Linked DNA regions of Homo sapiens. The protein of the gene in region 2 interacts with the protein of the main gene of each other region in a pairwise test. Each region holds a gene or a part of one and is shown on either strand. Other genes may lie near its edges. The genes, in order: DNAJA2, AICDA, DNAJA1 and TDG.

What was found.
Region 1: the proteins of AICDA (region 2) and DNAJA2 interact in binary tests that used the Homo sapiens proteins (3 or more experiments, as listed by UniProt).
Region 3: the proteins of AICDA (region 2) and DNAJA1 interact in binary tests that used the Homo sapiens proteins (3 or more experiments, as listed by UniProt).
Region 4: the proteins of AICDA (region 2) and TDG interact in binary tests that used the Homo sapiens proteins (3 or more experiments, as listed by UniProt).

Annotation. Positions count from the first base shown.
Region 1 is NC_000016.10:46,963,243-46,970,842, forward strand, and holds part of DNAJA2 (dnaJ homolog subfamily A member 2), read right to left. Parts: intron 4,923-7,600; coding exon 4,842-4,922; intron 4,405-4,841; coding exon 4,271-4,404; intron 1,566-4,270; coding exon 1,369-1,565; intron 1-1,368. UniProt on the Homo sapiens protein: Co-chaperone of Hsc70. Stimulates ATP hydrolysis and the folding of unfolded proteins mediated by HSPA1A/B (in vitro).
Region 2 is NC_000012.12:8,602,566-8,610,165, forward strand, and holds part of AICDA (single-stranded DNA cytosine deaminase), read right to left. Parts: intron 4,448-7,600; coding exon 4,300-4,447; intron 2,921-4,299; coding exon 2,650-2,920; intron 2,358-2,649; coding exon 2,242-2,357; intron 1,773-2,241; coding exon 1,719-1,772; 3' UTR 1-1,718. UniProt on the Homo sapiens protein: Single-stranded DNA-specific cytidine deaminase. Involved in somatic hypermutation (SHM), gene conversion, and class-switch recombination (CSR) in B-lymphocytes by deaminating C to U during transcription of Ig-variable (V) and Ig-switch (S) region DNA.
Region 3 is NC_000009.12:33,020,023-33,028,457, forward strand, and holds the start of DNAJA1 (dnaJ homolog subfamily A member 1), read left to right. Parts: upstream 1-5,250; 5' UTR 5,251-5,361; intron 5,362-6,452; 5' UTR 6,453-6,462; coding exon 6,463-6,594; intron 6,595-6,790; coding exon 6,791-6,968; intron 6,969-8,435.
Region 4 is NC_000012.12:103,975,872-103,982,871, reverse strand, and holds part of TDG (G/T mismatch-specific thymine DNA glycosylase), read right to left. Parts: intron 5,955-7,000; coding exon 5,812-5,954; intron 3,042-5,811; coding exon 2,800-3,041; intron 2,718-2,799; exon of another isoform or gene 2,245-2,717; intron 1,980-2,244; coding exon 1,910-1,979; intron 74-1,909; coding exon 1-73. UniProt on the Homo sapiens protein: DNA glycosylase that plays a key role in active DNA demethylation: specifically recognizes and binds 5-formylcytosine (5fC) and 5-carboxylcytosine (5caC) in the context of CpG sites and mediates their excision through base-excision repair (BER) to install an unmethylated cytosine.

The DNA.
Region 1 (7,600 bases), on a different chromosome or scaffold from region 2:
TTCTAACATTCAAGAATTTAGGTGATTACTGGAGGGGTTTTTCATGAATAGTTCCAGATTTATTCTTTGAGTAGGGTCTACAGTATACAATATGGACATTAAAAATATACAAGTGCAATGTTAAAATCAAAATAACATACACTAGGCTGGGCACTGTGGCTCACACCTGTAATCCCAGCACTTTGGGAAGTTGAGACAGGAGGATCGCTTGAGCTCAGAAGTTCAAAACCAGCCTGGGCAATATGGCAAGACCCTGTCTCTACTAAAAATACAAAAAAAAAAAAAACCCCAAAAAACAAACAAACAAAAAAATAGATGGGCATGATGGTGCACCAGTTGTCCCAGCTACTTGGGAGGCTGAGATGGGAGGATTGCTTGGGCCCAGGGGCGAAGGTTGCAGTGATCCCAGATCACACCACTGTACTCCAGCCAGGGCGACAGAGCAAGACCATCTCAAAAACAAAAACCCCCCAAAACATACACTAGTGACCACATTCTTCAGAAGCTTCTAAAAAAATATTTTTTTTAAAAAAAATCCCAGAACCCTTTCAAGGATAGCTCACTTGGGTACCCAATAAGTAAAAACCAAATCGACAGAGCAGCAGAGTTTCACAGTGAAAATACAGGCTGCCTTAGATCAACTGGTCCAACACCCAGTGCCCTTATTTTCATAAACAAAGAAACTGAGACAGTAAGATTACCTATGGTTAAAGTGTTAGTCAATGACCAGGCCAGAGGAGAATCGCTTGAACCTGGGAGGTGGAGGCTGCAGTGAGCCAAGATCGTGCCACTGCATTCCAGCCTGGGTAACAAAGCAAGACTCCGTCACACACACACAAAAAAGACCAAGGCCAGGCGCGGTGGCTCCCGCTTTTAATCCCAGCACTTTGGGAGGCTGAGGCAGGCAGATCACCTGAGGTTGGGAGCTTGAGACCAGCCTGACCAACATGGAGAAAGCCTGTCTCTACTAAAAATAAAAATTAGCCAGGAGTGAAGAAGCATGCCTGTAGTCCCAACTACTCGGGAGGCTGAGGCAGGAGAATCACTTGAACCCGGGAGGCAGAGGTTGTAGTGAGCCGAGATCGCACCATTGCACTCCAGCCTGGGCAACAAGAGTGAAACTCCAACTGAGGGGCAGGGGGAAGAAACCAAGCCAGGACTAAAACTGACTCTTACAGTGCTTCTAACTGCACCTGCCTTGTTAGTCTTTCTTACACAAGCCCGTCTTAGGAACTCACCATGATGCCCTTAACTTCACCAGTGTTCAGTGTTGCTCCAGGGACTCCAAACAGATCTAACCTATTTCTCACAAGCAAGAAGTACTTCTGAATAAAACAAAATACAAAAAACTAAAAAAAGGAAAATCACCTCATGTTCTTTCTCCTGTAGCAAAAGAACAATGTCTCCGGGTTCCACTCCTGGGGCCTGGTCTGCTTCCCCAGTGAATGTAATTCTCTGTCCATGTTTCATGCCTTTGTCTACGTGGACTTCAAGAATCTTGACTTCTTTAATCACCTTCTTCCCTTCACATTTTTTACAGCGGTCTTTTTCATTAATTACCTCTCCTGGAAAGAGAAGTCATTGAAACTTTCAGCAAGAGTACTATACTGTACTCTTAATACCCTTATTCTTTAAATATGCTTTCTGGACTTCTTTTAATCACTACCTAAATTTTTATTCAAAGCAGCATTCTGAGGCCAAGCACAGTGGCTCAAGCCTGCAATCCCAGCATTTTGCGAGGTCAGGGTGGTAGGATCACTTGAGCTCAGGATCTGAGACCAGCCTAGCAACACAGTGAGACCTTGCCTCTACTACAAATAAAAAAAGTTAGCCGGCGTGGTAGTGCACACCTGTAATCCTGGCTACTGGGGAGGCTGAGGAGGGAGGACTGCTGGAGTTCGAGGCTGCAGTTAGTTATAATCATGCCACTGCACCCCAGTCTGGGTGACAGTGTGAGGCCATGTCTCAAAACAAAACAAAAAAAAGCACTATTCTGAATAACAAAAACTTACATCTTACTACTGCAGACTGCCTGAAGGACTCAGCTTCCCACTATTTCAGAATGTAATGTATCCATACCATGTTTAGGGCAACACAGCTTTTCTCTTATAATTATGGTATTAAAAAGCAAAACCGTGATTATACATATTATAGTGTGAAAAAACTGCGTCACTTTCTAATGGCTAATTACCAGCACATTTGAAGGCTTAGAAAGAAGTGTATAACTGATTATTTAGGGACTGTTTCTGTAACAGTACTTGTGCAAAGTATGTTCTGCAAAACACGTTCTTCAAAATGGTAATAGTGGCCGGGCATGGTGGCTCACACCTGTAATCCCAGCCCTTTGGGAGGCGAAGGCGGGAGGATCACCTGAGGTCAGGAGTTTGAGACCAGCCTGGCCAACACGGCAAAACCCCGTCTCCACTGAAAATACAAAAATCAGCCGGGCGTGGTGGCAGGCGCCTGTAATCCCAGCTACTCAGGAGGCCGAGGCAGCAGAATCACTTGAACCAGGGAGGCAGAGGCTTCGGTGAGCTGAGATCACGCAACTGCACTCTAGCCTGGGCAACAGAGCAAGACTCCGTCTCACAAAAAAAAAAAAAAAAGAAAAAAGAAAAATGTAATGGTACATGAGAAAGATTTCAGTTAACTTTGGTTTCTTGATAGTGGGAGTTAGCAATTATAATAAAATAAAAGCAGGCCAAGAGTGGTGGCTAACACCTGTAATCCCAGCCCTTTGGGAGGCTGGGGCAGGAGAATTACTTGAACCCAGGAGTTCGAGACCAGCCTGGGCAACGTGGCAAAACCCCATCTCTACAAGAAATACAAAAATTAGCTGGGCGTGGTGGCAAGCACCTATGGTCTCAGCTAATTGTGGGGCGAGGGGCTGAGGTGGAAGGATTGCTTCAGCGTGGGCGGTGGAGGCTGCGGTGAGCCGAGAGTGTGCCACTGCACTCCAGCCCAGGCGACAGCAAGACCCTATCTCCAAAAATAATAATAATTTAAAAAAATAAAGTAAAATGCCAAGACTCTCCAGGAAGGAAATATCATATGTAACTTCTCATAATTATCTCATCACTTCCAATAGCAATTTGGAAAAGGATGCTATTGAACTATACTGTCAAATATGGTAGCCACTATCAACCTGTAGCTACTTGTTTATGTTTAAATTAATTCAAATTTAAAATAGTTCTCCAGTCACACTAGCCACATGTGAAATATGCAGTAGTCACAGGTGATTAATGGCTACTGTACTGGACACTGCAGATACAGAACATTTCCATCATCACAGAAAAAAATTCTATTGGATAGCACTGCTCTAGAATGGCAGGGGTGGGAGGAGCTATGTGTTTTTATAATTAAAATTTTAATCAGAACACAGCCATATCCATGTGTCTGTGGCCATAAAAGCACTAAAAGGTCAGAGATGAGTAGTTGTGACAAAAACTATTTGGCCCACAAAGACTAAATTATTTACTTCTGTAAGGACAGCTTCAATCTCAAGATCAATTCTGAAAAGCTAACTAAAGGTTACAGTGAAATCTTCCACTTATCAGAATAACTAAACAACTACTTGTTTAGTTATTTATTATTTGATTATTTGTCCCTTTGTAGTTTAAAAGGTTCTATGTGATAAAGGAGATAGTCCTCCTATGGTGGTCATTCCTACAGAGAGAGTAAATAAAAGGTTATATTTGATAAAGAAGGAAATAGCAAAGGGACAAATAATCACCTTGCTCCTCTTTTCTGAATTAAAAAGAGTCACCTTTCACTAACACAATACAAATCTACTGTTTCTCTATGTTCACTGGGCTTAGGCATAATGGAGTAATTACTTTCACACTTTTATCTTTTATTTTTTGCAACAGGGTCTTGTTCTGTCACCCTGGCTGAAGTGCACTGGTATGATCACAGATCACTGCTCCCTCGAACTCCTGGGCTCAAGCAATCCTCCCGCCTCAGCCTCCCACGCAGCTGGGACCACAGACATGCCCTGAGCCCCTCATTACATATTTTTCCACACTTTTTTTTCCTATAGTAATGAGGTCTCCCTATATTGCCCAAGCTGGCCTCAAACTCCTGGGCTCGAGCAATCCACCTCTGTCTCCCAAAGTGCTGGAATTATAGGAATGAGCTAACGCACCCGGCCTCCTTTTTCTTTAATAAGATGTATACAAATACCCTTTGAAATAAAAAATTGTAAACCTCTCCAATATCTGCATTCCCAATCCATTCCAACATAAAAGCAGAGAAGTACTGGCACACATACCTTCTCCATTACAATCAGAGCACACAGACTGCATCTGTTGTACCATCCCTGGAGCCAGCTGTCTGATCATGATGCGCACACCTCGACCTCGACAAGCACTACACTTTTGGACAGCTCCAGACTTTCCGCCTTGGCTAAAGCAAGCACAAGTTATGCATTAGGTTTTTGTCCACAAACCACTCCAATAAGCTATGACACACAGAAATTGTGCTTTTACCTTCATCTTCAACCCCAATAACTTGTATTTAAATTGACTTCCAGAAGTATCAGAAAACATTCTGCTAAGATTTTTTTACTTATTTATTGAGATGGAGTCTCACTCTGTCACCCAGGCTGGAGTGCAGTGGCGCAATCTTGGTTCACTGCAACCTTCACCTCTCGGGTTCAAGCGATTCTCCTACCTCAGGTGATCCACCCGACTCGGCCTCCCAAAGTGCTGGGATTTCAGGTGTGAGCCACCGCACCCAGCCGTAAGTTTTAACTTATAACAATTTTTACGTGGTACAGACATTCAGTGTGATACTTAAAAGAACAGACAAAATGTACCCAATAAACCAGAAGACACACTTACCCACTGCATGCACTACAGAGCACATTCTTGCTAAGTTGTAGTTTGGTTGTCTTGCCATTATACAGATCTTCTAAAGATACTCTGGAAAGAAAAGAATCGGCTTCAATCAAATTTTGCCACATTTTGTCAAATACAAGATATAAGTAACAGCTGATACAGCAAATTCGTTATCAACTTTTAAAACAGAATTCAAAAACACCTCATAATCTCACATTAAATCAATTAAACTGAGGCTTATATTATGGCTCAAATTAACAGAAATATTTTATGACTACAGACAGTACATATATGATACCCAAAGCCAGAGCCTATAGCATCAGGCCAACAATTTGCTGTGGTGGAATTTCTGATAAAGCTGATGACTTCGCAAACTCAAATATCACAACCTTCTGTTCTGAGGCATAAGCCCTCCACCTAACTCCTAATAAAAACCCTTCAGAAGAGGTACAATTATTATTCCCATTTTATGTGATAAAACTGAGGCACAGAACAGTCAAGTAACTTGCCCAAGATCACATAGGTATCTGGCTCCAGAGTCCCTGTTTCCTCCATGGACAATTTAGAAAGGCTACAAAGTTATATTTCGGCTTAAGGGAGTCACTTAGATGGCATATGTCTTAAAAAAAATAAAAGTGGCCCTACCTATAGTATGACAGAAAGGAGGGATAGAATAGTTTTTCATGCCAGGTGCAGTGGCTCATGCCTATAATCCCAGCACTTCGGGAGACTGAGGAGGGAGGATTGCTTGAGCCCAGAGTTCAAGACCAGCCTGAGCAACTTAGAGAGACCTCATCTTTACCAAAAAATAAAAAATAATTAGCCAGGTGTAGTGGCATGTCTGAAGTCCCAGCTACCCAGGAGGCTGAGGCAGGGGAATTGCTTAAGCCCTGGAGATTGAGGCTGCAGTGAGCTGAGATCGTACCACTGCACTCCAGCCTGGGGGACAGAGTGAGACAAGTACTTATGTGTGGAGTTTTCTACTTGTGGCATCATGATGGTGCTCAAAAAGTTTCATATTTTGGAGCATTTCAGATTTCAGATTAGTAATGGTCATCCCGTAATGATCTGCTTTAAAATCCTGGGAGTTAGAGGAACAAAAAAATAGTTTAAAGTATTTTACAAAGCACCTATACTATTTTGTGATATTCAAACTTTCTTAAAATTGTTATTCTCAGAAACTTAAAACTGTTGTAGGCAGGATAAGAATACCACACGTATGGACAAAACATTACCAACAACACTGTCAAATAATGACCTATCAACAGCTGAGCTTTAGACCAAAACGCTTGTTGCATCTTGTATACTCTGCATAACAAATCATTTAAAGAAAATCGGCTTTCTTCCCCTACATATTAAATTACAATTGGTATGCACAACCAGTATCCTAAGCCAGAGAAAAATACACATCTCAACAAAGAAGGCCAAGGAAGGAAAAATGCAGGTAATGGTTTGGCAAGGCTGGCACTCTCCACTAGTGGGGCCTAAACTGGCACAATCCCTCTGCAAGGCAATTTAGTTGTATTTATCAGCCTCAAAACACTCATGCCTGCCTGGGAATCTCTGCCAAGGAGAAACAAAGCTCTACATAAAGATACTCATAGCAGCAGTATCTATTACAGAGAAAAAACCTGGGAATACCCTATATAAAAGGTAAATAAATCATAGAATGCAGTATTATAAACATAGTATTTGTAATAACAGGAAAATCTGAAATGTTAAAACAGCAGAAAACTTTCACTATATAGCATAACTTTTTTTTAAACATGAAGAACTATAAAGTACAGACAGCACTCTTTTGACCCTATTTTCTTTTTAGACCATTTCTATATTAAAGAAAAATATAAACGAATTAACCTGCACTGCACAAATATTACCATTGGAATGGTATCCAAATGTTAATTTCTGAGGGTAAATTCTTTTAAAAAACAAATTTAAGGATTCAATGAGACTCAAAGTTAACAGATAACATGACTTCCTCTAATTTACTCAAGTGTATAAACTAGGATATTATGAAATATTTTAAATAAGTACCTGAACTTCGGCCACTGACATTTGCTAATAAAATCATTTATTGGTCCATGAAAAAAAGAATGGGAAAAAAGACCTCCCAGATTTTGCAAAGTGAAACAGCTATTTTCATACTGGAGAGGGCTTGTGGATTCACAGTCTAAGACCAAGGTCAGGCACCATTCATGTGTTGGCAGGTTAAGGTCAGGCTGGAAGCCAGCAAGCTCCATGGAAACCAACTCAGAAGAGTTCACACTGAGGATCAAGTAATGAGTGACTCTAACATGTACACAAAGTAGGCAGACAGTCACTCATTTTTAGTTTTTAAATAAAAGGTAACTTGGAAGATTCATATACTTCAAAGAAAATAGGCTGGGCGCAGTGGCTTATGCCTGTAATCCCAGCACTTTGGGAGGATGAGGCAGGAAGATCACTTGAGTTCAAGACCAGCTTGGCCAACATGGCGAAACCCTGTCTCTACTAAAAAATACAAAAATTAGCCGGGCATGGTGCGGGTGCCTGTAATCCCAGCTACTTGGGGGGCTGAGGCAGGAGAACTTCTTGAACCTGAGAGGAGGGGGATGCAGTGAGCCTAGATGGTGCCACTGCACTCCAACCCGGGCGACAGGGACTCCATTTCAAAAAAAAAAAAAAAAAAAAAAAAAAGGTCGGGCACAGTGGCTCACGCCTGTAATCCCAGCACTTTGGGAGGCCGAGGCAGGCAGATCACCTGAGGTTGGGAGTTCGAGACC
Region 2 (7,600 bases):
AATAAGACAGTTGTGCATTCAAGTTTTCCTGTGGATCTGCTCATCTTCATTGCAAGGGTTGCTAGGTAATAACGGCACAGGGATATGGTTATTCTGAATATTTTTCTCACTGTCAAAGACAGTTGTTAGGGACAAATAGACACCAAAAGAGACAAATAGGGATCCCTTATTGGCTCCTTACATTTTGTTGGATAAAGCACAATTTCCTTGCAATGCTTCCCCATCCTTCTCTCCCAAATATTGTTCTCTTTCTCTCTCTCTCTCTTTTTTTTTTTTTTTTCTGAGACAGAGTCTTGCTCTTGTCGCCCAGGCTGGAGTGCAACGGCACGATCTCAGCTTACTGCAACCTCCACCTCCTGGGTTCAAGCGATTCTCCTGCCTCAGCCTCCCAAGTAGCTGGGATTACAGGTGCCTGCTACCACGCCTGGCTAATTTTTGCATTTTGAGTACAGACGGGGTTTTGCCATGTTGGCCAGGCTGGTCTCAAACTCCTGACCACAGGTGATCCGCCCGGCTCGGCCTCCCAAAGTGCTGGGATTACAGGCGTGAGCCACCACGCCCGGCCCTCTCTCTTTCTTTTTTTTTTTTTTTTTTTTGAGAGACAGGATCTTGTTATGTTGCCCAGGCTGGCCTTGAACACCTGTGTTCAAGCCATCCTCCCTCCTCAACCTCCCAAGCAGCTAGAACTATGAGCGTGTGCCACGGTTCGCAGCTTTATCATTCTGTTTTGTCACAACTCTCTTATATAGTTAATATACCTTTGGGAGAAGCATCACACACATACAAAATGTAGCAAACCTTGACCTGATTGGCATTTCTGAGATGAAGAGACCCACGAGAGCCAATAGATTTTCCTCTCCCCAACATTCAAGCAACTTCCTTCCAATTGTTTGCTAATTATGATATGTGAAGTTTGTGGGTGTTTCTAAATTAGGGACTTCCTTAAAAGAGTTTGCGTTTCCAGAAGATTTGCTACTTCAGACATCAACCCATTATTAGGGTGTCTTGTTCACAGTCCTCCTGCCCATTTTAAGATCCTTTATTAAAGTAGCTTGAAGGTGACCATGCATGGTCTATACCTCCATCCCCACCCATAACAATCTTCTTTTGTACAAACATAAAAACATGCTTCTGCTGATTAAAACATACAGCGCATGATTGGATATTAATGCTTTGGAGAGATGGTTTGGGGTCACAATCACCCAGATACTCTCATTAGGAGGTCCTATAGATCATGGCCTGATGGAAGAGTTTGTGTTACTTGAAAGTAAACGTCAAGGGAAAAGAATAGAAAAATCTATCACTAACACCACTGTTAACTCAAATGAATCAAATAATAAAGGATGTTGATATAAAAACATTTGATCCTCTCACCATGCTTTTTAGGATCTACCTTCTGCTCTCATCCTACCTAAAAGTCATAGAAAAACGTTGACACTTTAGGATGCTCCCAGGTCCTGCAGTTCTGTTATTCCCAGTAGGGGACAATGTTGCATTCAAAACTGCACCAATTGCAGCACGTCCCTGGCCAGACCTGTGTTCCTTCTCTATTTTCAAGACATAGATCTTTTTAAAGAGTCGTATATAAATATTTTTTCTGTAAACTCTAAGAAAGTGAGAGTTGAAGAATAAAAACAGAGAAGACTTGAAGGACTGTTTTTTATCCACTGTCTTCAGCAGAGATATTTCATCGTGTGTGACATTCCTGGAAGTTGCTATCAAAGTCCCAAAGTACGAAATGCGTCTCGTAAGTCATCAACCTCATACAGGGGCTGTAGAGAAAGAGAGAAGCAAATTGAGTGAATGGCTTCAAAACGAGGTTGGGGGTCGGTGGGGCCGGAGAGTCTTCTAAACTGAGTGGATGGCTTTGTAACATGTTGGAAGAAAGTAAATTGGGAAAGAGTTTTTTTGGGTTTTTTGTTTGTTTGTTTAAAAAAAAAAAAAAAAAAAAAAAAAAAGGAGAAAAGAATTCTGACCAGGAAGGAAACGCAACCCTGGGGAGAGACAGAAATTTAAAGATGTGAAACAACAAAAGAAAGAAAAGGGAGGGAAAAGGAACCTTAGCAGAGGGCTCTGAATGGTGAAACAGCAGAAGAAAAAGCTGATGTGGAGGAGAAATAAAGTTTTCATCAGATGAAAACTGAGAGTGATTGAACAATAAGAAAATATAAGAAATATACGAAACTCCAAAAAAGACTGTAGAGAAAGAAAGAAAATTTAAAAAGCGAGGAAGCCCCTTACCAAAAGGATGCGCCGAAGCTGTCTGGAGAGACGAACTGAATTTTCATGCAGCCCTTCCCAGGCTTTGAAAGTTCTTTCGTGGTTTTCTACAAAAGTATTCCAGCAGTAAAAATAATCTTCAAAAAAAAAAAAAGGAAAAAAAGGCGGGGATATGGGGGTAGAAGACAGTTCAGGTTCCAAATCGAGGGGAAAGAAGCAACCCTGGCCCCATTTTCTCATTTCCTCGGGGCCTTGTCTCTGAGCCATTCACTCTTTTCTCTGCTTCTAATCTTTAATTTCGGCTCCAGAGGTGAACCAGAATCCCCGCCCACTTCTTCCCCTCGAGCTTCCCCACTAACTCATTCATTCCGCATCGCAATCCCGAATGCGGGCTGCTGCACTGCGCCTGCGCGGAAGGCCCTTTCGCACCTTTGAAGGTCATGATGGCTATTTGCACCCCGGCGCGGTGCAGCCGCCGCAGCCCCTCGGGCTCAGCCTTGCGGTCCTCACAGAAGTAGAGGCGCGCGGTGAAGATCCTCAGACTGAGGTTGGGGTTCCCTCGCAGAAAGTCGGCCACATGTCGGGCACAGTCGTAGCAGGGGCTCCAGGAGGTGAACCAGGTGACGCGGTAGCAGCGGCCAGGGTCTAGGTCCCAGTCCGAGATGTAGCGGAGGAAGAGCAATTCCACGTGGCAGCCGTTCTGGAGAGACAGAGAGGACCACGCTAAAATTCACTGACTTTTATTGCGGCTCTGGTAGCCTTAGTCATTGTCTCCTGCAATGATCTTTGGGGATGCTTGCAGCTATTGTCCTTGTGTTACAGAGAGGCTAAGCAACTTGCTCAAAAGAGCACACCAGTAGGTAGAGCTGAACCCTTGGCAGCACTAGTCCTGCAGAGTGAAGGAAGGCTATGGGTTTTTGTGGAATGAGGAAGACGAAGTGCGCTGAGTTGGGAGGAAGCAGCATCACACTACCTCACCGAAGATTTAATTTGTGTTTATGAAGTTGCTTTTTGCACCTTTTGAGAAGGAAAATGGCTAGAAGTGCCTGTTGATGTAACATTGTGGAAATATACCTGGACCACTAGGTGGAGGCAGGACAGTTTATGAGGACCATTTGGGAGGATCTGAAAAGGGGAAATAGATTTTGGTAAAGCAGACAGATGGGTATTGTAAGAGAAGTAATAGGCACTGCCATGAGAAGTAAATGAAAGTGCTTGATAAAATCAAAGCCTTCTGAAATAGAATGTGTCATGTCACCGAATAGGAAGGAGATTGGGATGTATTCAATACAAATGTAGGCAAAGAAAATTGCATGGTAATATAACCATCAAACAACGAGCCAGACGATGACCTTCCACCCCACGGATGCTTCCCTGAGATTCCACCAAGCCCAGACGTCACAGCGTGTTAGGAGAGAGGAGATACCCGTGGGCAGAAGTTTATGTAAACCCATCTGGATTTTGGTGAAGAAGTCTCTTGGAAATGTAATTCTCTCGGGTAGCCGAAAGATCAATTTAATTAATCATCAGCCGAGGCTTCTCTGAGTTTTCTGGGGATCACCATGTTGAATGTATTCACTGGCCTACGACCCATGTGAGTAGGAGGGAAAAGAAATCATTTGGAAGACAGAATTGAGCCACCGTTAATTTTTTCCCAAATTCTTCTTCCTTAATTTTCAAAAATGCTTAAGACACAATTTGTTTTTCACATTTAAAATTTTTGCTTGGACAAGCTGATAATATTCTCCCATATAAAAATGCTTTTAGCTTAATTAATCTCAAAGGCAATTCAGATGCTGAGGAAAGCTGGTAAACAGTTTGGGAGCAGTTGTTCTTGGCACTGAAGGAAGGAGTGGTATTAGGGTGCCCAGCATTACTGGGGAGGAATTAAATCACATATTTTGGGCCATGTCTAATATGGGTGCATGGACATGGAAAAAGAAATAAAAAAAAGGATTTGAGGAATGTGATAGAGACACAAATGCCAAAAAAGGATGGAAGTAATACCATCAGCAGGTGGCTCTAAAAGCACTCACAGTTGACCATTAAACTGCTTGCAAAGCCGACTTTAATTGATACCTTATTGCGAAGATAACCAAAGTCCAGTGAAAAGGATGTAGCACTGTCACGCCTCTTCACTACGTAGCACAGGTAGGTCTCACGCCGACCCTTAGCCCAGCGGACATTTTTGAATTGGTAAAGAAACTTCCTCCGGTTCATCAAGAGGCTGTGGGTGAGAGGAGGGAGAGAAAATGCAAGAGTACAGTTTATAATCTGGTCACTCTGGATTTTCCTTCAGCTTTTTAAGGAAGTCATTACTTGGGCTAAACCAAAGAAGATGCTCTGACTTCCTCTGCTGGCTGCCTGAGCCCTCCTGAGCCCTGCTGAGCCTGGAATCCATCATAAACTCCTTTTCCTGCTTATATTTAAGGCCAATTGAGAGATACTCATCAAGGACCCCAAACCCTTACCCACAAGACAGTCACCTCCTGCCACTGTCTTCTAGATGCTGATGACTTGGGATTACAATTAAATTTGTTCTTCAACAAGAAAACGAAACAAAAAATAAAATAAACTTGTTCCTCAGTCCCATAATTGTATATTCAGATTTCCCCTCCAGTCTTTACCTAAGTGTCCAACTTGTACCTCAAACTCAAAATGATCAAAACAATATTCCTCAACTGCCCCCTGTCCTAAACTGCCACTCCTCCCGACTTTGCCACCTCAGGTAAGCAGCCTAGCAGCCTGGAACCATCCTTGACTCATTTCTTATTCCTCAGTCCTCATATTTAATTAATCATCTAAATGTGTTGATTCAAACCCCCCAATATTTCTTGAATTTGTACCTTCCCTGTTTGCTCTTCTCTGCTTCGGTCCAAGCCCTCATCTTCTTCCTCCTTATCTGTTGTGCTGGCCTTTTAACCGGTCTGTCTGCCTCCAGTCCCTCCAAAATAACATTCCCCACACTGTCACCACCATGATCTCACAAAAACCAGGTGCACCATGCCATTCCCATGCTGAAGACCCCCTGATGGTTCTCTTCTGCCTGCAGAATAAACTCCAAACTCTTTAATGTGGTGTTTAGGCCACTTTTTACAGTTGGATCTTGATCTAAATTTCTTTTTTTAAATTTTTTTTTTTTTGTTACGGTCTCACTTTGTCGCCCAGGCTGAAGTATACTGGCATGATCTTGGCTTACTGTAGCCTCAACCTCCCAGGCTCAGGCAGATCTGCCAGGCTCCGCGGATCCTCCTGCCTCAGCCTCCTGAGTAGCTGGGATTACAGGCGCCCACCATCATGCCCAGGTAATGTTTGTATTTTTAATAGAGACGGGGTTTCACCATCTTGGCCAGGCTGGCCTTGGACTCCTGACCTCGGGTGTTCTGCCCGCCTTGGCTTCCCAAAGTGCTGGGATTACAGGCGTGAGCCACTGCACCGGCCTATTTTTTAATGTATAAGAGCAATACCTGGCTGGGCGCAGTGGCTCACACCTGTTTTTTAATGTATAAGAGCAATACTTGGCCGGGCGCAGTGGCCTACATCTGTAATCCCAGCACTTTGGGAGGCTGAGGCAGGTGGATCCTCTGAGGTCAGGAGTTTGAGACCAGCCTGGCCAACATGGTGAAACCCCATCTCTACTAAAAATACAAACATTAGCCGAGTGTGGTGGTGGGCGCCTGTAATCCCATCTACCCGGGAGGCTGAGGCGACAGCTTTGCTTGAACCCAGGAGGTGGAGGTTGCAGTGAGCTATGGTCATGCCATTCCACTCCAGCATGGGCAACAAGACCAAAACTCCATCTCAAAAAAAAAAAAAAAAAAAAAAAAAGAAAGAGTAATACTTGATCATTGTCAAACTTGAATACTATGGAAAAATAGAAGAGCTCTAAATTTTAAAATATTAAAGATTTTTTAAATCTCAAATATCATAGTGTCTAATAATAATAATTAGACTTAGTGTCTAATGACAATGACTGTTAAGATTCTTGTGTTTATTCCTCTAGTCTTTCTACAGGCACATATTTACATGATTTGGATTATACTGATTGCATGTGTGATTTTGTACTCTGCTGCTTTTTTAACTAGTCAAAATGATCTAAATATCTTGCTATGTTGTTCCCACATAATGACTGATTTCTCCTCCTCTTTGTTTTCTGGCTCCTAGCACAGTGTCTTGCATATCATAAGCACTAATTTGAATAGCATTTGTGGAAATACTCTGGTAACCCAAGTTTCCTTAAAGAAATCAAGAGTCCCCATTGCAGCTGCAGACAGCAACACAAGCTGTACAGCATGGTTGATATGAAAGCACAAGTGATGCCTGGATTTTGTCCCTAGTCTTTTCCAGAAATGCATTTATCCAATTTGTGGAGCTAGTGCTGTCACCTAATGGTACGGGGCAGAAGTGCAGAGAATTTGCGAAGTAAAGGGCTCAGGAATTTGAATAACGTTTGCTGGCAAGAGAATTGAAAGTTTTCTTACACATTATTTTTTCTTACATTGAGGTATAATTTACATACAGTAAACTCCACCCATTTAAGATGCATAATTCTACGAATATTTTTGGATGTAAACACCCCAAACTGCTACCACAGTCAGGATACAGAACCTGAATCACCACCCTCACCCCACCAGAGCTTCTTCCCTCTTTGCAGTCCTTCCCCTCCCCACAGGACAACCACTGATTTGCTTTCTTTTTTTCCCATTTTTGTGGAGAATGGAGTTTCACTGTGTTGCCCAGGCTGGTCTTGAACTCCTGAGTTCTAGCAATCTTCCCACGTGGCCTCTCAAAGTGCTGGGATTACAGGTGTGAGCCTCTATGCCTGCCCTGATTTGCTTTCTGTAACTATAAGTTACTTTCATTTTCTAGAATTTCGTATGGCATACATTATCTCCTCCTTCATGTCTGACTCTTTCATTTAGCGTCATGACTTTGGGATTCATCCCCAAGTAGCTTCTTTGTACTGCAGGGTGGTATTCCATTGCATGGATATAGCACATTTTGTTTATTTGTTCACTTGTTGATGGATATTTGGATAGTCTCTACTTTGGGGTTTTGTGAATAAAGGTACTATGAACATTCACGTACCAGTCTTTGTGTGGATATACATTGAGAATTGATATTTTAATAATGTAGTGCAGGTGACAGACCCTGACTTTAAAAGTTAAATACCAAAATATCAGCCTAACTAAGTAGCTCATCTAGGACAACAGCTCTTTGTAGTTGTTTCCATTTATTTTTAATTTTTCTTCTTATTTTTTTGAGGCAAGGTCTGGTCCTGTCACCCAGGCTGGAGTGCAGTGGCGCAAGCACTGCTCAGTGCAGCCTTGACCTCCTGGGCTCCAACGATTCTCCTGCCTCAGCCCCCTAGTAGCTGGGA
Region 3 (8,435 bases), on a different chromosome or scaffold from region 2:
GCTCCGCTGGCCGGAGCTGCCGGGGTGTCCGCGCCCCCGGGGCAGCTGTGATCACCCTAGCCATCCCCGCAGTTGGCGCCTCCGCCTGCGTCTGCATCCACGTCCCACATAACCGCCCTGGCTCCGACTCCTTTTCTTTGTAAACTAAAGAAAAAAGTATAGCTGTAGTTGTACTCATTCAAACCTGGACTCACCTTTTCCTTCACCCAATTTTGCTCCTACCCTGGCTTCTTCCTCCTTCTGGGCTCCCTACCCCAGGAAGGGGATCTCCAACCATCCTGTTGCTAAAGCCAGAAAGCTGGAAGTCATTCCTCCTCCCTACCTCTGCATCAAGTCATCATGACTCTACCTGAAGACTTTACATGTTTTTATATTTGTGTTTATTTTTCTCCCTCTCCATTTCTTCTATTTAGGCCTCATCATTTCTGATCTCATCGCTCACCATAAAAACCTGCTAAGAATCCAACCTTCGCATTAGCACCCAAGTGATTATTGTGAAATTTAAATGTAATCAAATCAGCTCTAAAACAAGGGTTACTGTGAGGATAACAATATGGCAACGTTTGTAGAGTGTTTAGCGCAGTGCCTGGCAGGTCCTCACAAAAGAAAGAACAGATGAGGAAAGAGAAAAGAAACAAAAAGTCAGCTGTCACAGGTTATATCACCCCATCCCTAAAATCCTCCAGTGTCTCTCAAGAGCCTTCAAAACAAAATTCAAACTTTTTAGCATAATGCCCAAGCCCTTATTACTTTGCTCCTGCCAGGCCTCCAGCCATCTCCAGCTACCTCTATGAACACTTACGGCCATGTGGTTATTGAGTTATTGGCCAGGCGTGGTGGCTCACGCCTGTAATCCCAGCACTTTGGGAGGCCGAGGCGGGCAGATCACCTGAGGTTGGGAGTTCAAGACAGCCTGGCCAACATGGAGAAACCCTGTCTCTACTAAAAAATACAAAATTAGCCAGGCGTGGTGGAACATGCCTGTAATCCCAGCTACTTGGGAAGCTGAGGCAGGAGAATCGCTTGAACCTGGGAGGCGGAGGCTGCAGTGAGCCGAGATGGCTCCATTGCACTCCAGCCTGGGCAAAAAGAGAGAAACTCTGTCTCAAAAAAAAAAAAAAAGAAAGTATGAAATATCCCACTGAAATAAAATATAATGGTAAGAAAAGAGGCCATCCATGACAGCAACAACAAAAAATGCCTAGTAACACATTTAAGAAGAAATGATGAAGACCTAGTTTAAAAAATGAAGAAAATAAATATACAGTTATATGTTCATGAGTAGGAAGATTCGACATTTTAAATGTGTTAATTCTCTCCAAACTGATATATAAAATCACTGTAATCACAATAAAACTCACAATGGGATTTGGGGGGAATCTGCCAGAAATATTCCTAAGTTCCTCTGGAAGAATAAACATATTAAAAAAAATACAAGGAATATTCTAAAAAGCAAGAACAATGAAGGGAAGTAGTACCATGTATTTCAGTGGAAATTAAGTATACATTAAAAGTGGTGGCCAGGTGTGGTGGCTCACGCCTATAATACCAGCACTTTGGGACACCAAGGCAGGACAACTGCTTGAGCCCAGGAGTTCAAGAACAGCCTGGGCAACATAGGAAGACCCTATCTCTGCACATACAAAAAAAAGGTTGGGGGGCGGATTTCACATTAGTCAGGAAAAATAAGATTAGTGTTAGACAAACTAGTTTGCCATTTGGAGAAAAATAAAGATCAGTTACTTACAAATAATCCTCAGTCCTTACACCAAAATAACTTTCAGATGGAATAAAAAATTTAAGTTTAAAATGGAACAATGATTCCAGATGCAGTGGCAGGTGTCTGTAGTCCCAAGTACTGAAGAGGCTGAGGCAGGAGAATCACTTGAGCCTAGGAGTTCGAGGCCAGCCTGGGCAACACATCAAGGCTGTTAATTTAAAAAAAAAAAAAAAAAAGGGAAACAATGAAAGTACTAGACCTAACCTGTAAACCTGGGACAACAGATTTATATTTATAATGCTGGACTGATGAAGGGGAAGGTGGAGAGAAGAAAAAGGCCAAAAAGGAAGAGTCACAATTTATCTACATAAAAATTAAAATCTTTATATGGCCGAAAAATATATATATAGATACTAAGTAAAAAGCGAAGAATATACTAAAGAAAACAATTGTAACACATGACAGACTAATATCTACCCCTAAAAGGGCTATTATTAAAATAGTGGAATTACACCACAGAAAAATGGTAAAATAATATGAACAGTTGACAGGAGAGTCAGTAAACATTTAAAACATGGTTAAACTTACTAACAAAGAAACTCGAAACAATAAGATATCACTTTTTATCTCCAAGCTTAGCAAAGATTTAACAACAAAAGGCCCTCATATTGGCAAGGCCCACTCACACACTGCTGGAAGCAGTTACAAACCAGTATGGAAACTTATTTATTACAATTTTAAATCTACATTCATGTTGACTCAGCAATTTCAATTCTAGCTGTCCATCCAACAGAAATACTTGCATGAGTACTCAAAGCTGTATTTGCTAATTTCTCTGCAGCAGTTTGTAAAACACTGGAAATTGCTGAAATATTCATCAGTAGGGGAATAAATTACGGTGCCTACATACTACGCCATTAAAAATAACAAGGCAGATTAGTTATTTATCCTGGCATAGTAAGATGACAAAGTGAAAAGGGCAAGCTGTAAACAGCTTGTATAATGATCCCATTTCTGTACAAACGAAGACCACATACAAAGTTATTGCCAGTTTTTTTATTTTATTTTACGTAAGAATGCTTCTTAAAAGTGTTAACTTTTTTGTTAGTTTCGTTTTTAGACAGGGTATTGCTCTGTCGTCCAGGCTGAGGTTCAGTGGTGCAATCACCACTCACTGCAGCCTTGACCTCCCAGGTCCATCCTCCTGCCTCAGCCTCCCAAGTAGCTGGGAGTACAGGCCCACACCACCACACTAACTCTAATTTTTGTAGAAACGAGGTCTTATTATGTTGCTCAGGCTGGTCTCAAACTCCGGGACTCAAGGGATCCGCCTGCCTTGGCCTCCCAAAGTGCTGGGATTACAGGCTTGAGCCACCATGCACCCCCTACTCTTCCTTTATTAGCATTTAACACTCAACTGTTTGTTTCTGGTTCCCTATGTTGTGAGCTCCTTGAAGGCAGGGACCACGACTTATGTGATTTTTTTTTTTTTCTGAGACTCGACAGAGTCTTGCTCTGTCAACCAGGCTGGAGTATAGCGGCACCATCTCTGCTCACTGCAACCTCCGCCTCCCAGGTTCAAGCGATTCTCCTGCCACAGCCTCCTGAGAAGGTGGGACTACAGGCACGTGCCACCATACCTGGCTAATTGTTTCTATTTTTAGTAGAGAAGGGTTTCACCAAGTTGGCCAGGCTGGTCTAGAACTCCGGATCTCAGGTGATCCGCCACCTTGGCCTCCCAAAGTGCTGGGATTACAGGTGTGAGGCACGGCGCCCGGCCTGACTTACGTGATTTTTGTATTACAAAGCCCTAGTACACTGCCTGGTAATATTAGACGTTTATTAACGGTTGGTTTAAACAAAAAACTTTATACCAGAGGTGATACTTGAGAAGGCAACACCTAAGATTGAAAAAAATCAGGTGTCTGTCAGCCAATGCAAAAGCATACAAAGGTGAAAAGGCGTATATGGGAAACTGCGGATAGTTCTGTGACTGGAATGCACAGTTAAAATTAATGAAAGAGAAAAGGCTGAAGAGGCAGCATGAGGATGCTTCCAAGGATAAAGTTCAAAATTCTTAGCGTAGCATATATACCAACAGACAAAGGCATGCCCTAACTAGCTTTGAAGCCTCACCTCCGGCTATTCTAGCTCCCTTAGCTATGGCTATATCCAATTAGTTGCAATTTCCTAAAAACATCATATTCTTCCACACCTTAGTATAGCCTTCCCCTGTGCTTTGTCCACTGCTCTCCTCCCATTTTCAAAACTCAGCTCAATTGCCACTTTCCCAAAGAAATTCTCTCTGATCTATCAGGTTAATATAGGAGGCTCTCCCCTACTGACTTCTACCTCATGGTTTCTCTGGCAGTCTGTTGACTTGTTTGGCTTCTCACTAAAGTCTAACTGGGGCTTTTCAACTCTGCATCTCCAGTTCTGTTTTTGTTTTAAATCGAGACGGGGTTTCACCATGTTGCTTGGGCTGGTATCAAACTTCTGAGCTCACGCAATCAGCCCACGCTGGCGTCCCAAAGTGCTGGGATTACACACGTGAGCCACCGAGCGTGGCAAACTCCATCTTTCTTGGTGCTAGATACTGACATACCTGCTGTGTCCCTGGATAAAGAAGCGGACCCCAATTCCCATTAAGCCCCCGTGGTACCATTTTCAAGTCCGAGGTCTTACGTTGCAGATTGTACATCCAGGTTCCCTGACCCGTAGGATTTAAAAGTGAGGTCAAATAATTAAACAAATTGTTTTAGTCAGACACTCTTGCGGCTACTCTGTAGCCAAACTGGGTGAAAACCTGACCAGAGGAGTCCACGGCCCTCTGTACATCAAAGACGGTCCAAACGTCTCACTGTTTAGCTCAGTCCCAGACACACTGAGCTCAATCTGCACGAATCAGCGAGGTCCAGGGCAGATAACATGTGTCTAGGGGCCTGGACTTGCACAAAAAGCCTTAACAACTTCACAATTTGATTAATTATGCCGCCTTGGACCACGCGTGAAAAACAGCAAGACCCAAGGCCTATGCTATTGGTCTGGGGACTAGACCCACCTGGCTCAAGCATTTTTTGCTCGCCACGTTCCCAAAAAGAGAAGAGGCGCCCGTAAGAGGGGGGGGGGGGGGGGCAAGACTGTTCCAAGAGCTTTCCCGTTCACACACAGCTCCCGCTGGGTCACTGTACTCGAGCCCTTCCCGCCCTCGCGGGCCCAGGCGGCCACCCCACAGGTTTGGGAACCCTAGGACTTGCAGTGCTCCTGGGCCATGCCCCACCAGCCGGAGACTTCCGCACTCTCAGGCTCGCTGAGTGGAGAAAAGGGCTCCAGAAGATTCCACGAGCGCCGGGAAGCCGCGCTAGCACCAACACCCACAAGGCCTTTCGGCGCAGCTCCTCCCGACCCGTGCGCCCCCGCGCCGTTGCCCAGGTAACGGCGGGGCGGTGGCAGCGGCCGAGAAGGGCGGGACTTCCGGCGGGTGACGCGCCCGGGTTCGGCTACAAAAGAGGACGGCTGCGGCGCGCCGGGCGGAACTTTCCAGAACGCTCGGTGAGAGGCGGAGGAGCGGTAACTACCCCGGCTGCGCACAGCTCGGCGCTCCTTCCCGCTCCCTCACACACCGGCCTCAGCCCGCACCGGTGAGTTTGAGCCCTCGCGCTGCCCCTAGTCCCCTGGCTGGCGCCATTGGCGCCGGGAAACCGATGGAGCCGCGGTCGGGAGGCAGTTGGCCGCGTGGGTAGGACCGCTGTCAGTTCCTGGGCCCACGATTTCCCTTTTGGAGGGCTGGTGTGGTGCCCTGGCAACCCATCCCCGGCACGCACAGTGAATGGGCCCGAGACCTTTCCTAGACCTCCCTCCTTCCCCAGCCTGGGATCTCCAAGGAGCTACTGTCTTCGGCTGCCCCTCCGTGCGCGCCCCCGCGGCCCCCCTCCCCGTCCGTGCTCGCTCGGGGTGGGGGGGGGGAGTGGGGTTGGCGACCCTGCGCACGCGCACAGGGAGGCAGGGGCGAGGGGCTGCGGGGGGAGCCGGGCGGAGACTGCGGCTTTTGGTTTCGCTTTCTCTGTTTCCCCTCCCTTTGTTTGTTGAGGGCTGGGCTTTCCCCACCGCCACTTGGGTCCAGGGTGGGAGGGAGAAAGGAAGGAAATCGGTCAGCGCCAAGTGCAAGGGGAAACCTGGCAGGTAAACTCTGCCAGCCTGAGGGGCGAGAGGGATTCGGCTGGAGAAGCTGTAAGCCGTGGGCGGTGGAGGGCTTGCTGTGTGGAGCCAGTAACCTGTTCTATAAACCACTCCCCCCCACCACTGTGTGCCCAGACGTCTTTTTCTGGAGAGTATATGGAGTTTATCAGATTTGCCAAAGACAGTGATAGTGTAATGACCGGTAGACTGAACATATCAGTGCTTCTTTTGGTTACAACTGTCACCGCCTCTAGGGCAAACGGGAAGAATCCAGATAATAGTTGTGTTATATTAGTATGGAAGCTTTGGTGTAGGAAAATTGGAACCAGCTGCTAGAAGGCGGCTCTCAGATTATTTCCCGATAATGATTATTTGTTTTGTCTGTTCGAGTTTATAGCTGAATTATCGCAGGAATTGTTACCTTTTTGGTGAAATTTAGGGAAGGTGGTGTTCTTATAATCGGATTTTGCAAAGAGATTGCTCGGCCTTAGCTCTCTTTTTTATTAAAAGCTACCAGTTGAAAGCCGGTTAAAGTTGCATTTTCTTATTTCAGGCAGTAGAAGATGGTGAAAGAAACAACTTACTACGATGTTTTGGGGGTCAAACCCAATGCTACTCAGGAAGAATTGAAAAAGGCTTATAGGAAACTGGCTTTGAAGTACCATCCTGATAAGAACCCAAATGAAGGAGAGAAGGTGAATAGTATCTACTCTTAAACGTATCTGAATAGTTCTTTGCCAGACGTATAGTATTTCTATTATGGCCTGAAATCGAGTATCTAATATAGTAACTATGATCACTTCTCGGCCTTTTTAGCTAAGATCAAGTGTAATGTAGCTAGGTAACACTTGTTTTTTAAAAAATGAAATTCACTCCTCTTTTCTCAAACAGTTTAAACAGATTTCTCAAGCTTACGAAGTTCTCTCTGATGCAAAGAAAAGGGAATTATATGACAAAGGAGGAGAACAGGCAATTAAAGAGGGTGGAGCAGGTGGCGGTTTTGGCTCCCCCATGGACATCTTTGATATGTTTTTTGGAGGAGGAGGAAGGATGCAGAGAGAAAGGAGAGGTAAGAAGAATCTAGTCTTTGTGCAGCTAACTAAAGTTAGCTGTTGGTCAGAGCAGATCTTTGAGAAATCACCCATTTTAAATGCTTGTTTACATGTTGGTATAATGTTGCAAACTGACCACAAATTGCCTCTGATTTATGGTGTCGTGTTTTTTTGTTGTGGTTTTTTTTTTTTTTTTCTTGAGACGGAGTTTCCCTCTTATTGCCCAGGCTGGAGAGCCATGGCGTGGTCTCAGCTCACAGCAACCTCCACCTCCCGGGTTCAAGCGATTCTCCTGCCTCAGCCTCCCAAGTAGCTGGGATTACAGGCATGTGCCACCAAACCCGGCTAATTTTGTATTTTTAGTAGAGATGGGGTTTCACCATGTTGGTCACGCTGGTCTTGAACTGCAAACCTCAGGTGGTGATCCACCTGCCTTGGCCTCCCAGAGTGCTGGGATTACAGGTGTGAGCCACCATGCCCAGCCAGTGGTGTCGCTTTTTTTAAAATGAGATTTAAGGGGCCTAAAAAATAGCCAACAGAGTGGTAGCAAATGACTGCTTCCAAAAATCTTAGATATTATCAAACAAATTATGAGAACAGGCCGCGTGCTGTGGCTCATTCTGTAATCCCAGCACTTTGGGAGGCCGAGGTGGGTGGATCACTGAGGTCAGGGTTCGAGACCAGCCTGGCCAAGATGGTGAAACCCCATCTCTACAAAACTACAGAATTAGCTGGGCGTGGTGGTGGGCATCTGCAATCCCAGCTCCTCTGGAGGCTGAGGCAGGAGAATCGCTTGAACCCTGGAGGCAGAGGTTGCAGCGAACGGAGGTCACGCCACTGCACTCCAGCCTGGGCAACAAGAGTGAATCTCTGTCACAAAAAACCCAAAAAAATCCAAAAATTAGCCAGGCATGGTGGTGCGTGCCTGTAATCCCAGTTACTCAGGAGGGCTGAAGCAGGAGAGTCGCTTGAACCCGGGAGGTGGAGGTTGCAGTGAGCTGAGATCGCCCAATTACACTCCAGCCTGAGCAACACAGCGAGACTCTTGTCTCAAAAAAAAAAAAAAAAAAAAAAAAAGACAAAGTATATAGCAATATAATTTTCCAAGCCCTTTTTACAGATCTTATTTGGTGTTCCCTCACTCCCCAAAGGAATTTGATGGTAGGTACAGTGGCCTTTTTCAAATGGGAGTAAGTTAAAGTTCAGAAACCTAAAACTTCTTCAAGCTCATATAGCAAGCCAACAGAGCCAGGGCTGAAAACTGGTTCGTTGCCTGCCATCTATCTATTCTTGTTTCAGCTTTATTGTGTCAAAATTATGTATTTAATATGTTTATCAGGAAAGTGGCCTATGGGCTCTAGAAATACTGCTTATAGGAGTAAAATGTTCAAGAGAAATCAGTCTCACTTTATTTCCAGTATAGTGTATACAAATAAGGGCTGATGAGCAGAACCAGTTTTAGAATGAATGGCCAAGCCATTAAA
Region 4 (7,000 bases), about 95 Mb from region 2:
TTCCCTGGTAGAGTGTGATCATCCATATGGTTCAGCTGGACCTCACTGAGCCCTGACATAAACAAACACTTCCCTGTAAAATGAAAATTCAGTTATTTATTTTTTTTTAGACAGGGTCTCGCTCTGTCACCCAGGCTAGAGTGTAGTGGCACGATCATGGCTCAGTGCAGCCTCGACCACCGAGGCTCAAGCAATCCTCCCACTTCAGCCTCCTGAGTGGCTGGAACCCCAGATGCACACCACCACGCCCAGCTAATTTTTGTATTGTTTGTAGACAGGGTTTCACCATGTTGCCCAGGCTGGTCTTGAATTCCTGGGCTCAAGTGATCTTCCCACCTCAGCCTCCAAAATTGCTGGGATTACAGGTGTGAGCCACAGCGCTTGGATTTAATCATCATAATTATCTTGCAAGATACTATTATTATCTCCTTTTCACAGGGGGTTGAGGCAAATGCCTGCCCAAGAATATATAGCAACTCAGTTTAGGAAACTTTGAGACTATTTTGCTTTACAATTGGTGATACCACCACCTCACACGTAAACATACAGCACTAGACTAACAACATTCAAACACCTTGACAGTGAAGAAAGTCAAAAGTCCAAACTTCCCTTAAAAAGGAATTTTTTAAAATAATAGGGACAATATGTTATTATTAGTTCCAAAACCACATTACTATCAGTTGCCCTAAATGTTTTGAATGTTACTATTAGATAATCAATTTCCTGAGCGTATACTGCATACACTGATCTATTAGGCAGTATAAAATAAGATGATTTATATACAAGACAACTTATATAGAGAAGGCAATGCAACAGTAGTTACGCTTGTTTTTTGTTTGTTTTCTTGTTTGTTTTTGTGATACAGGGTCTAGTTCTGTCACCTAGGCTGGAGTGCAGTGGAGTAATTATGGCTAACTGCAGCCTCAACCTCTCAGGCTCAAGCAATTTTCCCAACCCAGCCTCCGTAGTAGCTGGAACTACAGGTGTGCACCACAGCACTCAGCTAATTTTTTATTTATTTTTTTGTAGAAATGAGATCTTGGTATGTTGTACAGGCTAGTCTCAAACTCCTGGCCTCAAGTGATCCTCCTGCTTTGGCCTCCCAAAGTGTTGGGATTACAGGTGTGAGCCACCAGATCCAGCCAACACTTGGTTTTAAAACTTACTCTAAAAATATGAGTCTTTACTACTATTTTATGCTCTGCTAGAAAATAATCACCAGAAATCTGGGAAAGTTAGTATTATGTCTGCACTGCCACAAAGATGTACTATACTATCGTTACTATGCCTATAGATAACAACTTTTAAAAAATCATTTTTAAAAAGTAATACAACTTGGCTGGGCGTTGTAGCTCACGCCTGTAATCCCAGCACTTTGGGAGGCTGAGGTGGGCAGATCACCTGAGGCCGGGAGTTCGAGACCAGCCTGACCAACATGGAGACACCCCGTCTCTACTAAAAATACAAAATTAACCAGGCGTGGTGGTACATGCCTGTAATCCCAGCTACTAGGGAGGCTGAGGCAGGAGAATCACTTGAACCTGGGAGGTGGAGATTGTGGTGAGCCGAGATCGCGCCATTGCACTCCAGTCTGCGCAAAAAGAGCGAAACTCCATCTCAAAAAAAAAAAAAAAAAAAAAAAAAAGTAGTACAACTCATTAGAAACAATTCAAACAAAAGAGAAAGTACTCTTATTCACATCCCTCCATTCTCATAGACTAAAATGTTAACAGTAACATATCATTTCAAACTCTCTTATTTTCACGTACAGACACACACACAGAACATGAAACACGAATGTGTATTTACAGTCTCTTTCTTTTTAAAAACACAATTGGTTTTTCTGAAAAAACCTGTTAACAAAGATACCTAATTTAAAAGTAAATTAATTTAAAAGGTAACCACTTACAAAAATGGTTTCCAGGTCCAGGGTAATGATGCCCTTTGTAAGCAGCCATTAGTCCCGGGTTTATGCCAATCTATAAAACAAAACAATTAGACATTTCATCTTAAAAAGCAGGACCTAAGCCTTAGCGTTTCTATGGAGGAGTGGTGGACAAAATTGAGTTGATTAAAATACAAATTTAATTCAGCATCATAAGCAATATCATTTATCAATTACTACTCTTGATCTGAACAAAGTATTTCATATATGGGAAAGAGATTTTCTTTATTTTAAAAGTTTTGCTGTTATTTTAAAAAACCAGTTTGACTCCTTTATGATCCCAGGCCTCGCACCCTCACCAACTGGGCTGCTTTGAGTCTGGAAAGACAGGTCCTGGAACAATCAATCTGAGCCCATGTCCAGCCACAATTCTGATTCTCAACTTTCAACAAGAAGCTCGCTCCACATCACCTACACAATTGTTCACATGCTGATGTTTCTTACAGTTACTGAGAAAAATAAGAGCTTAAAATTAGTGCTGCCATGTATCAGGTCTCCACAGGCATCATTCAGTTGAAGTGATTCACATGGATTCTCTCATTTACTTGCAACCCTATCGGGGGGTGGTATTATCACCCCTGGTTTATCAATGAGAAAACCGGTGTTTAGAAAGGTTAATAAGACTTATCCAAGATTATACTTGTGACAGGATTTGAACCCAGACAGTCTAAATTTGGAGCCCACCCTCTTAAACACTCTCATATAACACAACCTCATGAAGCTGACACCATTTACCACCAAAAGGATTCTTAGAAATGGTCCTTTTCAGCAAAATGCTATTTGCAAGGACAACTGTTAAGTAAAGCTGATCCCCCAATACTACTTATAAAATCCAACGAGGACAAAGATCTTACAATGACAATGTCCAGATTGAAGGTCAAAATATCGGGGAGAGTCTTGGTCAGAAGTTCAGCTTCTGAAACACCATTAAAACGGTCTACTTTTCTTTTTACTTTAAATGTGTCTGTAATTTTTTCTTGTTTTTCTTTTGATTTTGCAGACTTGCCAGATTTTTTTGACTCAACAGGTTTTTTGGGTTCCACTGGTTGTTTTGGTTCTGTTGTTCTGGGTTTTCTTTTTCTTCCTTTTGGAGCCTCTGAAATACAAATAATTTCCAGAAATGCAGAAAATCTTAACTTAGAAACTTTAGCAGCTTTCCCAGAAAAGTTACCCAACTAGCACCTTTTGTACCTGTCTCCCCAAAATTAAGCTCTTACAGTCCCAACATGAGTCTCCTCTGCAATATCTTCCCTTTCTTTCTCCCTAGAACTGGGTTCGTGCAACCCCCCATGCCACTCTCCTTCCCCTGCTAGCTGTTCGTGGGAAGAATAATCATAGACTATTATTTTCGACACAGTATTACTTGGCATCTTAACCTCCTCAAGGATACAAAGTATCTACATATCATTTTATATAAATTCTAAATGTAAATACATAAATAATTAAATAAGAACAGAAAAATAGAGAAACAGGAAGGAAGGGAAACATTTTAACTCAACTTCCCCAGTAGAAAACCACAAATGGGCCAGGTATGGTGGCTCATGTCTGTAATCCCAGCACTTTGGGAGGCCAAGGCAGGCAGATCACCTGACGTCAGGAGTTCAAGACCAGCCTGGCCAACATGGTGAAACCCCCGTCTTTACTAAAAATACAAAAATTAGCCAGGCATGGTGTCGTGCACCTGTAATTCCAACTACTCGGGAAGCTGAGGCAGGAGAATTGCTTGAACCCAAGAGGTGGAGGTTGCAGTGAGCTGAGATCATGCCTCTGCATTCCAGCCTGGGCAACAGAGCAAGACTCTGTCCAAAAAAAAAAAAGAAAGAAAAAAGAAAAACACAATGGCTTGTGGGCTTGTTTTAGAGATGAGGTGTATATTCTGTTCCATACATAGTTGAAGAGGGGAATTTAGGGGTGCCCAGGATGACATCTCTGGGCTGGCAGTATTTTTCAAAAGGCAAGAGGAGGGATCCAACCTCAGGACGTAAAGCAGTTTCTCAGCCTCCACACTATTGACATTTTAGGTTGCATAATTTTTTGTTGTGGGTGGCTGTACTGCACATTACAGAATGTTTAATAGCACCCCTGATCTCTACCCACTAGATGCCAGTAGTAACCTGCCAGTCTTGATCATCAAAAGTGTCTTCAGACAATGTCAAATGTCCCTTGGGAGGGCAAAATCACCCTTGATTGAAAACCACTGACCTATAGTTACCCAACAGGAAGCCCTGATTTTCTTACCCTTAATTATTTAACATTTCTCCTAACTACTCAGGCTTCTACCCTATTCTACTCCTCTTTGGCGTTTCCCCAATCAAGCCTCGCAGGATACAGGCAGTCAGTCCCTCCTCTCTTCTGCCTCACATTGTCTTAGCCACTCCCTATGCCAACAGATCCACCATCACTGGCATGTAGCTGGGGAAGTCCTAATGCGGAGGCAGAGTTATTAGATGTGTTCCTGCAATCATAAACCAAAACCCTGAGCACATTTCTCATAAAATACTGTTACACTGGAGAAAATCATTAACTTCTCTCCAACCACTCTCCCACCCCTGGAACCTATTATTTTCTTCTAATTCTCTGTCTTGGTGAGTGGCACCTCCTCCAACCAAATGCCAATGCCAGAAACCTGGTAGTTACTTCTGGACTCCCCTTTCTCCCCCACTATCCTGCCATGCTCCCCCCAAACACATGAAACCCATTAGCCATGGCTAGGTAATTCTACCTCCTAAGTGTTTCCTAATTCTTTCTCCACCCCTTCAGGTCCTCCTCAGTGCTCCCCTAGATTATTCAAACAGTGTCTCTAATCCATCTAATCCACTCCTTGACTCCAAGTTTTGTTTTTGTTTTTGTTTTTGTTTTTGTTTTTGAGACAGAGTCTCGCACTATTGCCCAGCTGGAGTGCAGTGGTGCAATCTTGGCTCACTGCAGCCTCTCAGCCTCCGCCTCCAGGATTCAAGCAATTCTCGTGCCTCAGCCTCCCCAGTAGCTGGAATCACAGGTGTGCGCCACCATGCCCGGCTAATTTGTGTGAGGCAGGGTTTTGCCATGTTCGCCAGGCTGGTCATGAACTCCTGACCTCAGGTGATCTACCCGCCTCAGCCTTCCAAAGTGCAGGGATTACAGGTATGAGCCACTGTGCCCGGCCTGCCTCCAAGTTCCGACTTGTTGTCTACCAACCAATCTATCTTCTCTAATATTTCCAGGCTAATTTGTAAAGCACCAGTCAAGTAAGTCATCCCTTGCTTACATTCTCTCAACAGCTCCCTATTGCCTTCATGATAGAATATAAATTCTTTGGGATTAAAAAACAAGTTTCAACTGTCCCCATCCAGCCTCACCTCTCACCATTTCCTTGTTATATCCCAGACTCCAAGGACACAGAATTGCTCTGTTTCTGGCCATGCCATGCTTGTGTGTGTCTGTACCCAGCCTGTATAGCTCCCTCAGCCTGGACATGTCCCTACTCTGATCTTTATCGGGATGAAGCCTCCACATTGTTGGAGTTTCAGAGCCCTGGTGTTATTTCTCTGCTCTGGGAAGCAGCCTCTGAGCCATCAGTCTGAGTTAGAAGCCAACCCCATAAGCTTTCAGGGCATTCATTCTATGCCCCTCTTCACTACAAACTGTGCTGAGCTGTAACGTGTATTTACTTATTACTTTTCTCTACTAGATTATGAGATATTTTTGGGCAGGACCCATGTTCTTTTATTCCCCAGAACCTATCAGTGCTTAGCACATACTAAGTACTTAAAAAGTGGATTTGACTTTTTAACACTAAAATAGAGCTAAAATTCACCATGAAACCCTTTCTCAAATAAGCTGGCTGATCCGATGTTGAACTTTCTAAGCTCTCATGGTGAAACTACCTTGCACTGGTTCCTGAGCAGGAGCTGGGGCTGGAACTTCTTCTGGCATTTGCTGTTCATTCACAACTGCCATATTAGGAGCTTCAGCCATCAGTTGTTGAAATGGAAACGTATAAAAAGCTTGAGCTTGCTGAAGGGAATAGCTGAAAGAATAATGAAGCATGAGATGTAATGATAAAATTACCCAAATGTAAATCCAAATGATCAGCTGTACAAAAATCTTCAGTACAGTATTAAGTATTTTGTAACCAGACTGAAGTATTTATTTAGAGTGGATTACAGAGGAGAGATCTAGTCCTGTATGTACATGTTCACCAACCTTTACTGAGTGCTTAATAACCAACCATTAACTCTTGCACTGTTTAAATGATAAGATGTGTCACTGATAAAACTGATCAGTCCTGTCAAGTCAGCCCATACTTTCTCTGAAATAAGATTTGAGGGAGTTTTCTAGTAGACAGACTTGAAAGGTCTATCAACCCATACAGGGTTAAGATGTCCCCAAATACAATTTGTGCCCCTACTTTCCTTCAGTATTTAATCACCTGAAGATCCCCTCCAATCTAATTAAGATTCTCTTTTAGTTTATTTTTATTTGCCTGTTTACTTATTTTTTCATTAGTTTGTGTGTGTGTGTGTGTGTGTGTGTGTGGGGAGACAGGGTCTCCCTCTGTCACCCAGGTTGGAGTGCAGTAGTGTGATCTTGGTTCACTGTTACTTCTGAGGTGGGAGATCTCAAGTGATCCTCCCACCTCAGCCTCCCAAGTAGCTGGGACTACAGGAGCGAGCCCCAATGCCTGGCTAATTTTTGTAATTTTTGTCTAGACAGGGTTTTGCCATGTTGGCCAGGCTGGTCTTGAACTTCTGAGCTCAAGAGATCTGCCCATCTCAGTTTCCCCAAGTGCTAGGATTACAGATGTGAGCCACTGCACCCAGGCCTATATTTGATTTTTATTGATGGTGGTATTTTTGTTTTGTTGGGGCTAGGGCTTTTTTTTTTTGCCACTGCTATGGTTTGAATGTGTCCCCCAAAGTTCACGTGTTGAAAACTAAATCCCCAATGCAAGTGTTGAGAGGTAGGACCTTTATGAGGTGACAAGGCCGGGCACAGTGGCTCACACCTGTAAACCCAGCACTTTGGGAGGCCGAGGAGGGTAGATCACCTGAGGTCAGGAGTTTATAACCAGCC